Homo sapiens: one gene and its partners. The protein of the gene in region 2 interacts with the protein of the main gene of each other region in a pairwise test. Each region holds a gene or a part of one and is shown on either strand. Other genes may lie near its edges.

Evidence for each region.
Region 1: the proteins of GTSE1 (region 2) and PRPF39 interact in a two-hybrid assay, tested with the Homo sapiens proteins (one large-scale study listed by BioGRID).
Region 3: the proteins of GTSE1 (region 2) and NIN interact in a two-hybrid assay, tested with the Homo sapiens proteins (one large-scale study listed by BioGRID).

What each region holds. Positions count from the first base shown.
Region 1 is NC_000014.9:45,082,845-45,086,915, reverse strand, and holds the start of PRPF39 (pre-mRNA-processing factor 39), read right to left. Parts: upstream 2,801-4,071; 5' UTR 2,667-2,800; intron 1-2,666. UniProt on the Homo sapiens protein: Involved in pre-mRNA splicing.
Region 2 is NC_000022.11:46,306,870-46,310,369, forward strand, and holds part of GTSE1 (G2 and S phase-expressed protein 1), read left to right. Parts: intron 1-1,280; coding exon 1,281-1,338; intron 1,339-1,449; coding exon 1,450-2,074; intron 2,075-3,500. UniProt on the Homo sapiens protein: May be involved in p53-induced cell cycle arrest in G2/M phase by interfering with microtubule rearrangements that are required to enter mitosis. Overexpression delays G2/M phase progression.
Region 3 is NC_000014.9:50,751,163-50,754,662, forward strand, and holds part of NIN (ninein), read right to left. Parts: intron 3,471-3,500; coding exon 3,401-3,470; intron 1,572-3,400; coding exon 1,356-1,571; intron 1-1,355. UniProt on the Homo sapiens protein: Centrosomal protein required in the positioning and anchorage of the microtubule minus-end in epithelial cells. May also act as a centrosome maturation factor.

The DNA of each region.
Region 1 (4,071 bases), on a different chromosome or scaffold from region 2:
TTATTGAGTTAGTGATGTCCATGTACATCTTATTGTGGGCTGCAGTAAAAAAAAAAAAAAAAAAAAAAACTGAGAAACACTGCTGCACTACTGCAAACTAATATTACTCGAATATTAAATTTCCTGATCACAGCTCAACAAGAGTAAAAGGAAAAAAAAATTAAATTGGGTGAGAATGAGGCCTTATCAGTTTTGTTCACCGCTGTCCCCCTTGAACCTGAAATAATACTTGCCGTGTAACAGCACAACAAATATCTCTGAATGATATATCCAGTCTCAACTTAACTTTCCAAAAGTATTAATCTTACAATACTCCTCCTCATTGCCATTTCCAGAGTCCCTTAGATTTTTCCTTTCTGAGCCTTGACAAAAGCTGTTCCCCCAGACTAATAAAAGTCCTCCCTTTTTCAACTCACCAAACCAGTCGATTCCTTTTCACTACATTACACTTTATTATAAAATCATATGATAGGCACAAAGGACACAAGTATAAAATGAAACATAACATAAAGTGAATAGGCAATATATAAAAAATACATTTATCATACCTTTCACTTTTAGTATAATTATGACGTACATTAAGTATTTCAGTGACAATTATGCCATCTTAAAATTTAAAAGGTCTTTTGGAGGATGACTTCAATTACTAACACTTAATTAAAAATGGGACATTTGGGCCGGGCACGGTGGCTCATGCCTGTCATCTCAGCACTTTGGGAGGCCGAGGCAGGCAGATCACCTGAAGTCAGGAGTTCTAGACCAGCCTGGCTAACATGGTGAAACCCCGTTTCTACTAAAAATACAAAAAATTAGGCGTGGTGGCGCGCATCTGTAATCCCAGCTACTGGGGAGGCTGAGGCAGAAGAATGACTTGAACCCGGGAGGCGGAGGTTGCGGTGAGCCAATAGCGCCATTGCACTCCAGCCTGGGCAACGAGAGTGAAATGCCATCTTTTGACCTAATACCTTTTTTTTTTTTTCTGTATGCCTCTTATTCCTGTAGAGGTACTTAAAAATTATACCATTGACTATTCTTTTTCATAAACACAGCAATATATAAAAATCTGAAGTCATCACTAAAGACTGAAAGGAGTTTTGGGTAGAGCAAAACAAGTAGCTTTGCAATAAGCAAATCTCATCCACAAGGCAATCTGGAGATTTGGGATGTAAGAAGAAAAGAGACTATCATAACCACTGGTTTTGGCAGCTGTTTTTAAGGGCTAAGTAGTCACACGCCGACTTTTTAAAGTCTCTACATATTAAACACTGTGTTCCAGAAACTAGATTTTGTATATGTATTTACATAAACGTCTACATCAATCTTCGGCTTTTTGGAAAACGTACCATTTGGCTGGAACTACACTACCTTCTTCCTCCTTCGGCTATTTTTAATTTTTTTTGAAGTCCTATCTTCCATGTAGATTTGTTAAAACATACCACAGAAAACAGCACATACAATTTTTATCATTTGACTTTTAAACATCTTCTTTCTTATTCAATTATAAGCAAGGAAAAATATTCTGAGACTTTACACAAATAGTGTCTCATACCACCTATGAGCCATCTATGCTCAACCCCTACTTCAAAGTTCACAATCTAAGTACTAGTCCTCTTTAACAGAACTCCTTTCCATCACTTTATCCCTACTAGAGAGTGAACAGTGGAAAGTTCCAACTTTTGCAACTCTAGAATGAGGTTATAAATCTAGAGGGAGGAGGAAAACCTGACAGTAGACGCTTGTTCTTTTCACTCCATTCAAGCTCCCATACAGCCTAAAACACTTAAGTTTCAACATGAGCTTCATACGTCCCTGTCCAAAACTTGCTTTCTCAAGCCTCACGCTTTCCAGCTGTAGCAAAGTTTATTTCTGAACAGATTAAATCAGTTGCTAAATAATCTGAAGTCCTCAAACAGAAGGCCATATGAGTATCAAACGAAAAAAACAACATTTGAATCAGCATAAATTCACATGGTATTATGGCATCATTACTAATACACTGAGCAGTATTATTTATTAACTTCAAGTATTAATTAACTTAAAGATGTGATTTTGGAGAAAAACACCAGTGGTGGTCTCTGATTACCAAAGTTAAACATTCTTAAGCACAATCCCTTAAAAAATCCTGCCAGGATCAATGATGTGTTTTTTCTGTTTTAAAGTATCCTGCCAAAAGCTGTGGGTGCTGTGACTTAGGGTCGCAAAAGTGTTGCTTATGTAGTCAGAAGACAGAACGTGCCCTACAAGGCGCTCACATGCCTTAGTAATAGAACGTATATTATCTTCCCAATCCTCTGGCGGCTGCAAATGTGCTCCTTCCACTTCCAGCCACCCCAGCCGTGTTCCAGCTCCGGGAGAAGCAAGGGCTTTAGAATTACCCCCAAATATCTTCCTAAATCCAGGCGAAGGAGGCCCACACTTCTCCACCCTACCTAACGCACCCCTCAAGTGAAACGTTTGGTCTAAGAAAAAAATACCTTGCACCGCTCCACCCAACAGGTGGGAAGGAGAAAGGAATGGACAGCTGAGCGCTGAATCCGAGCCAGGCCTCAAACAGGGCGGGAGAGGGAGGCCGCGGCCAGAGCGCGGCCTGAAACCCGGCAGGCCCCTTTCAGTACCAAGTACCACCCTCTGCCCCAGCTAATTTCAAGGAGCCCGCCCCAGCAGACCTTATGATGGATGCCACTTGATGCCATGAGCCGGAGCCTGTGACGACCTAGCCGAAGATGGCACTTCACCGCCTCCGTCCCCACAGCCAGCACAGCAGCCGCCACCCGCGCCACGGCCGCCTGGTCCAGGGCACGATGCGCATGCGTCAGTGTCCCTGGAGGCGAAAAAGTCACGTGGGTTCGCAGCGCGCAGGCCTGGCCCTCCCAGGGATCCTCGCTGCCCGTGCGGCCCCAGCCCCGCCCCCGCAGCCCCGCCCCGCCCCGCCGCGAGCGAGGGCGGGGACCGCTGCGCCTACCTGCCTTTCCCTCCATAGGGACTTCCCAAAGGAAAGGAGGGCGTTTAGGGGCTTTCACACGCCTGATCTTAAACACAGCGCCCTGACCCCTCCCCACCAAAAACGGCAAAATGTCATTTTTGGGGGCAAATCTAAGGTTTTCCCTACAATTGTTCAAGCTTTCACACTAAAACATTTACCTAAAAACGGGCAGAAATTCAGCCTTAAACCCACAAATCTCACGATGGTATAGACCCTGGGCCCACTCAGGTTTCCTGAAAACTAAACAGTTCTGGAGTTAGGGGTTTGGAGAACGGGCTATTGTTAAAGAAAAAAGTATTTAGTGACACTTGTTAAAGCACAAAAAGAGGGCTTTATTCAGGACCATCGCAACAGGTATAGGGACCACTGACTGCAATGGAGACTTGCAGTAGGGAAAGAGATATTGGGCTCAACTCCTCATACAGCATGGGCAAGTGGAGATTTATAGCCAAGGAGCGGTGGTAAGTGAATGTATAATTACTAAGAGGAAACATCAGGGTAAGGGGGATTTTGGCTAAACCCACCTAATAGGATTTTTGCTGAAGACAGGCCAAGATAATGAGGCATCACCTGGGGGATGGTGGAGACTGAAGAACCTGATCAGATATTGAGGATGATCAGCTATCAAGGATGGGGGTTTATTGCTAATCTGACTTAGCAAAGTTCTTTGCTTAAACTGGATTTTACAAAGAAAGTGTACAGAAGAGCCTAGCAGAAGATTCAGAAACCTGACTAAAGTTGGCCAAGCAAAAAAAAAAATCTTTGTATCTGAAGGGATATGTTATCCTCTGGACAAATTGAGGGGGACTGTGCGTTAACAATCTTAGCAGTCCTCTTCAGTTGTACCACCATCTCCACTTTAATAAAAAAAAATTTTCTTTCAAATCTGGCCTCTCTCCCTTTAAGATTCTGTTACATTGGTGCCCCCGCATTCACCTGTCACTTACCATGTAATCTGTTGTTCCAGGTGCATTAGTATTACTACTGGGCTCCAAGTTCCTCATCTGAAATCTGTCTCCTCTGGAAATACTTATTTACAAGACGACGTTTCTTGTCACAACGCAGGTTAATCATAAATCCTCTCACCA
Region 2 (3,500 bases):
TTTTGATAAATATTTGCTAAGTGTCCAGGCCCTTAGCTGGACATTTGGGAATTTGGGTTAGTGTTAGACACTGTTATCTTGGAGGAGCTTATAGTCTAGTTGGGGCCATAGAAGGGTCAAGAGGCACTCACAGAGGCTAGTGCAGTGGTAGAAGTGAGGTCCAGGCACTGCGGGAGCCTTGCGGGGAGCTGGAGGAGGGAGCAGGTGCCCCTGCAGAGGGACCCACTAACCTGGAACTTGTGATCTGTTTTAGAGGGACCTGGGCAGACAGGGCCATGCCAGCTGTGATAGAATTATGGATGGGGTGGGGTACAGAGTAATTTCATCTGAGGATTCAGGAAGGACTCCAAGAAGCAATGGCGGTCAACGAATTCTTATAGAGTCCCTACTCCGTGCATTTGAGTAATATTAAATTCATTGTTGAACTATGAATAGATGTTTTGTAGCTTGTAAGAGGGGAATTTAATTCTAGGGGAGCTGAGGAAGGTGGTCTTTTGAAAATGTTCTATACCTGGAAAATGACTTATCTCTTCTTGAAAAGCTAGTTGAATGAGTCAGTGAATGCATTTTAGATTATATCTTAAAAGTAAGGACCTAAGCTTTTGGGTGGCTTAGTGAACATAGAATGGCTGATGTAATTTCTTTTTTTTTTGAGACAGAGTGTCTTTCTGTCACCCAGGCTGGAGTGCAGTGGTGCCATCTTGGCTCACTGCAACTTCCACCTCCTGGGTTCAAGCGATTCTCCTGCCTCAGCCTCCGAGTAGCTGGGACTACAGGTGTGCGCTACCATGCCTAGCCAATTTTTGTATTTTTAGTAGAGACGGGGTTTCACCATGTTGACTAGGCTGGTCTTGATCTCTTGACCTCATGATCTGCCCGCCTAGACCTCCCAAAGTGTTGGAGTTACAGGCATAAGCCACCGCCCCCAGCCGGCTGATGCAATTAAAAAAAAAAAAAACTGGCCAGGCATGGTGGCTCACGCCTGTAACCCCAACACTTTGGGAGGCCACGCCAGGAGGATCACTTGAGGCCAGGAGTTCGAGACCAGCCTGGTCAACATAGCGAGACTTCGTCACTAGAAAAAATTTAAAAAATTTTTTAAAAAGGAAAAAATATAACTTAGAGCCCCCTATGAAAAACTAAATTAGCATCATGACAGGATACACTTTGGGGAGTGAAATTTCACAGTACCTTTATTTAATTCCAAGCCATAGAGCCTGGTAATATTTTTCTCTTTATCAGCTGTGGCACTAAAATAACAGTGGATTTTTTCCCTCTAGACATTCTTCTTTTGGCCGATGAAAAATTTGACTTCGATCTTTCATTGTCTTCTTCGAGGTAAACAAATGAGTTTTCTTCCCTTGCCTTGGGCATAACCACATTCAGTAAAGTCTTTCCTTTAAATGCCAGTGTTATGAGTTATTAATCATTCTTTTTTTAAACAAATAGTGCAAATGAAGATGATGAAGTCTTCTTCGGACCCTTTGGACATAAAGAAAGATGTATTGCTGCCAGCTTGGAATTAAATAATCCGGTTCCCGAACAGCCTCCGTTGCCCACATCTGAGAGTCCCTTTGCCTGGAGCCCTCTGGCCGGGGAGAAGTTCGTGGAGGTGTACAAAGAAGCTCACTTACTGGCTTTACACATTGAGAGCAGCAGCCGGAACCAGGCAGCCCAAGCTGCCAAGCCTGAAGACCCTCGGAGCCAGGGCGTGGAAAGATTCATACAGGAGTCAAAATTAAAAATAAACCTCTTTGAGAAAGAAAAGGAAATGAAGAAAAGCCCCACGTCTCTTAAAAGGGAGACATACTACCTGTCAGACAGCCCCTTGCTGGGGCCCCCTGTGGGTGAGCCTCGGCTCTTGGCCTCCTCCCCGGCCCTGCCCAGCTCTGGTGCCCAGGCCCGCCTCACCCGGGCGCCGGGGCCTCCGCACTCTGCTCATGCTTTGCCCAGGGAATCATGCACTGCTCATGCTGCAAGTCAGGCAGCGACTCAGAGGAAGCCCGGGACCAAATTGCTGCTGCCTCGAGCGGCCTCTGTTAGAGGAAGAAGCATCCCTGGGGCTGCGGAGAAGGTAAATGCCACAGCAGAGCGCCTGCCTGGGGAGCCCCCACTCCTTGCCCCTCAGCCCTCTCACAGAAGCCACATGCGGAAAGCCTCAGAGGTGGCGAGTCTCTGAGGCCTACAAAACACAGGAATGCGGAGTCCAGGAAAAGCAGTTGCCAATAGGGAGCTGATGTGGGGGTGGCTTGGATAAGTTGGGTTGACCTAATATTTCCTCCTAAATTCTGTCTGAAGTTGTTCCTTTTGTTTTGTTACAATGCTGGATATACCACACAGTAGGGATTTCATTTGCTTTAATAAGCAACCTCTTCCAAAAACTCCCCTCCTCTGCAATGGCTGCTAGTCAGCCTCCTTGACCGTGCCTCAGTTTACACTGCATTCCTCCTGGGCACTGAGTGAGGTGAGCTTTCCTGGGAGGTGGCAGTTGACAGGGGTGCCTTTGGGTGCAGTCTGCCTACTCTGGGACACTGAGGGTCCTGGAGGTCTGGGGGAAAGCTGGGTGTGAGCACAGGACTTGCTGCCAGGGCTGCCCGATCTGGCTCTTGCTCGGGAGAGGCCACAGAGAGGAAGACGGGGCGGGTGGGAGCCCCGGGGCCCACCCTGCAGCCCGTTCCCAGCTCTGCCCCCTCCCCTGGGCAGCACGTACAGAGGAATGACCCTGGGTGGGGCTGATAGGAGGTGCAGGCAAATGCAGAATGCTCAGCAAGGGCCCAGAAATTCCTTTACCCCCACCAAGCCCATCTCCTGAGCCACATGACTCCCTGTGGTGAGAGCCAAGGATGGAAGGCAGCCGAGGTGCAGCCGCCACGCCACACACTGCCCTTGACAAGGAGGTATGCCCGGCACTGCCACCCCCAACAGCTGGGGCCTGCAAACTCCTTTATTTGGAGCCCGTTTGGGATGTAGATTCCTACCGTGATGTTTCTAGAATGAGAGTGGGATGGGTCCTGCTGTGTGGAGCACACGTGGACTCGGGACAGGGATTGTGCATGTAGCACGCGTGGACTCGGGGAGAGAGGTGGTGTGATTTGGGCTGCTCCAGACCCATCGAAGTATCTCTTTTGATCTCCTGGTCCTGGGTGGTGAGCTGGGGTCCAGAGAGCTTGTTCCCAGTGGACAGGGCACTGTCCGCACAGCTGAGATGCACTCATGCACACGTGGGAGCCCCACCATGTCCTGCATGTTTCTCTGGGAGAAGTCACTTCTAGAGTGGCTCATGGCACATGCTCACTCCTGTGAGGAGTCATTAGCAATGGGTGGACCACTTGAGTGTAACACCTACTTACAAGTGTGCTTGACAGAGAACTGCTAGGATGCCTAAAGGAAGAAGAAAAAGAAAATAACAGGTGTTATTTTGAGGATGAGGATGTTGTGGAGGATGAGGAGAAGGCTGAGGATGTGGAGAAGCTGGAAGCTCACGCATTGCTGGTGGGACT
Region 3 (3,500 bases), on a different chromosome or scaffold from region 2:
TACTCTCCTACACATCAGCATCTATGTTGTTTCCACCATTTTGCAATTAGAAACAGTGCTGCAGTGAGTAACCCTCTGCATATGAGTTTTCATATTGTTGCGGTGGTATCTTTAGGGTAGATTCCTAGAAGTGAGATTTCCAGGGCAAAAGCTAGGTACATATGTAATTTTGTTAGGTATTGTCAAATTCACCTACAAAAAGGCGGTACCAGTTTGTATTCTCCCAGCAAAGCATGAAAGAGTCTGTTTCCCCACAGCCTTGCCAACAGAGTATGCTGTCATATTTTAAAATTGATGCCAGTCTTATAGGTGAGAAATTATACAAGTGTTGTTTTAATTTGCGTTTCTCTAATTTTGAGTGATTCTGAACATTTTTCCATAGATTTGAGGGCCATTTTAATAATTTTATTTTATTATTTAGAGATAGGGTCTCACCCAGGCTAGAGTGTAGTGGTACAGCCTCAAGGGATCCTCCTGCCTCAGCTTCCTGAGTAGCTAGGACCACAGGTGTGTGCCACTACACCCAGCCAATTTTTAAACTTTTTGTAGAGATGGAGTCTTGTTATGTTGTCCAGGCTGGTCTTGAACTCCTAGGCTCAAGCTATTCTCCTGCCTCGGCCTCCCAAAGTGCTGGGATTACAGGTGTGAGACACCACGCCTGGCCCATTTTTATCTTTTGTATATGATTTATTTGTTCGTATGCTTCTCCCATTTTGCTATCAAATTTTTGGTCCCATGTCCCTCCATTTTTAAGAGTTCTTTACTAGCAGGGATATTAGGCCTTCTCACTGTGGTATATGTTGTGAATATTTTCTCCTAGTTTGTCAGCTGTCTTCTAACTTTGTTTATGGTATCTTTTTGCCAAGTAAACTTTTTTTAACATATAATCAGTGTTTTCTTTTATTGCCTCCGGTTTTTGAGTTACAGTTAAATAGCCTTTCTTTACACCAGGGTTAAAGACAAATTCACCCGTATTTTCTTCAAATATTTGTATAGTTTTTTTTTTTTATATTTAGTCTCCTAATCCAATTAAGTTTATCCTTGTGCATGGAATGAAACATAGGTCTAATTTTATCTATTTCCGAATGTCTACTCAGTTGTTCAGGCACCATTAATTTAAAAGTCCATCTTTACCCCAGTGGTTTGAGAAGTGGCCCTGGTTATACACTACGTTTCCATTTGTATTTGGGTCTAATTCTAGACTTTCTATTCCACTTACCTACTTATCTATTCATGTGCCAGGACCATACTGTTTTAATTACTAAGGCTTTATGTTTAAGGAAGTTTAATACAAACATTTCTTCTATTTCTTGGGATTTCCTCAAAAAAAGCTGTCAGGTGGCTACAGGCCATACCTGCACTTTACAACGTTCCAGTTCTTCTTTCAGATTAAACTTCTCTTGTTCCCGTTCCTCCAATGCACTGTTTCCTGGCTCTTTTTCCTTCTGGCATAGCATTTCTGTTAGACGTTGATTAAGTTCTTGCAGTTTTTCCTGGTTTTGAGAGTTCTTTTGGCTAAGTTCTGTATTTTCCAAATCCAATTGTTGGTTTTTGATTTTTAATTCTGAAATCTAATTAAAATTAAAATAAGTTTTTCAAACTTGTTACCCTACTTGTGCTAAAAAAAAAAAAAAACAGATTTAGAGACATAATTGTCTTTTCCCTCTTTATATAAAGTTTAAAATATATATATATTTCAAAACAGAAATAATACACACTCATTATTACAAATTCATTCCATTCACAAGTGTATGAAGAAGTGAGACACTCAGTCTGACCCCACTCTACAGGGGAGCCCATTGTCCACAGCTGGATATGTGTCCCTCCAGATCATTTTCTACGCATATACAGAACCCATACACACATACAGATTCTTTTCTTCTCTTTAGCAAAATTTGGAAATTTTATGTTTGGACAGCTTGCTTTTTCTACTTACTTACTTAAAGACTCTTTCCAGGTGGGCACGGTGGCTCACGCCTGTAATCCCAGCACTTTGGGACGCCGAGACAGGCGGATCACCTGAGGTCAGGAGTTCGAGACCAGCCTGAACAATATGATGAAACCCCATCTCTACTAAAAATACAAAAATTAGCCGGGTGTGGTGGCATGTGCCTGTAATCCCAGCTATTTGGGAGGCTGAGACAGGAGAATCGCTTGAACCCAGGGGGCAGAAGTTGCAGTGAGCTGAGATTGCGCCATTGCACTCCAGCCTGGGCAACAAGAGCGAAACTCCGTCTCAAAAGGAAAAAAGACTCTTTCCAAGTCAGTGTGTTCAGCAACCACCACATACTACTTTTTACTGGCTATAGGATATTCCATGTAGTAAGATATTCCATAATGCATTTATCTGTTCCCACGTTGATAGACATAAAGTTTTTAAAATCATTATTTCTTTTAAATGGATCTTTTAGAAAATCCATTTATACATGGTAGTATTTTGTATTTAGAATTATTTTTTAGAAGTAGGATTGCTGGGTTAGAAGATCTGTATATAGATATATATTCATTATTGTTTCAACAGATATCTCTAATATGTCTTCCTCACAGTGCTACCACCTTATAATCCTAACAACAATGCATGGGCACAGTCATTTCCTCACATCCTTTTAAATACTAGATATCAATCTTTACTTCTTGCTAATTCAATAGGTTAAAAAAAAGACGCTTATTGAATTTGCACTTCTCTAATCACTAATAAGGCTAACCATCTTTTGTATTCTTTTTTTTTTCTGTGACTTGACCATTCATATAGATTGCCTATATTTCAACTGGATTTTCCCATTTATTTGTAAGAGTCCAAAATACATTTTGGATGTTAACACCTTGTCTATTTCAAGTGCTGAAAATACTCTTTCCCAATATGTCCTTGTCTTTTGACTGCTTCAGACAGATTCTTAAATGGCCTTCCCTTTTTATAACTGCATGTTGTAAGATTATACAAATTGAGCACTGAATGGCACCAGCTATCTGAATAAAATGTAATTCTGTGAAATGATATGCTGATTAGCTGGCATTCTGTATATGTGAAATTCTGCCCTTAACTTTCTGCTTTCAATCATGGTGAGGAAAAAGGAAGGGCTAACATTAACTGAAACTGCACAAGGGCTACAGCTAATATTTCGTAGGTATGGTTTTAGAGGTATCACCTCCTCAATTCTGCTGATGATAAAGCTTTATCAAGCACTTAGGGCCTAGAATAATATATACATTATTTAACATAAAACAGGAAGCTAGTTTAGAGTCAGTATGAGGTAAGTTTCCATTTTCAAATTCAGAATTTACAACCTTACCATCATTAGCTATATGCTATTCATTACCGTGTGCTGTAAATTTATAAATTTCAAAAAATGGGAAAATTTTGGAATCAAAAAACATTGAGAAATATTAAGTATTTCCTTACCTGTTTCTTTAAATTTTCAACCATCTTCTGAACTGCAGCATTTTCTTGTTTTACAGTTTCCGTTTTTTGCCTAAAAGGAATGATGAAAATAAAATTTAAT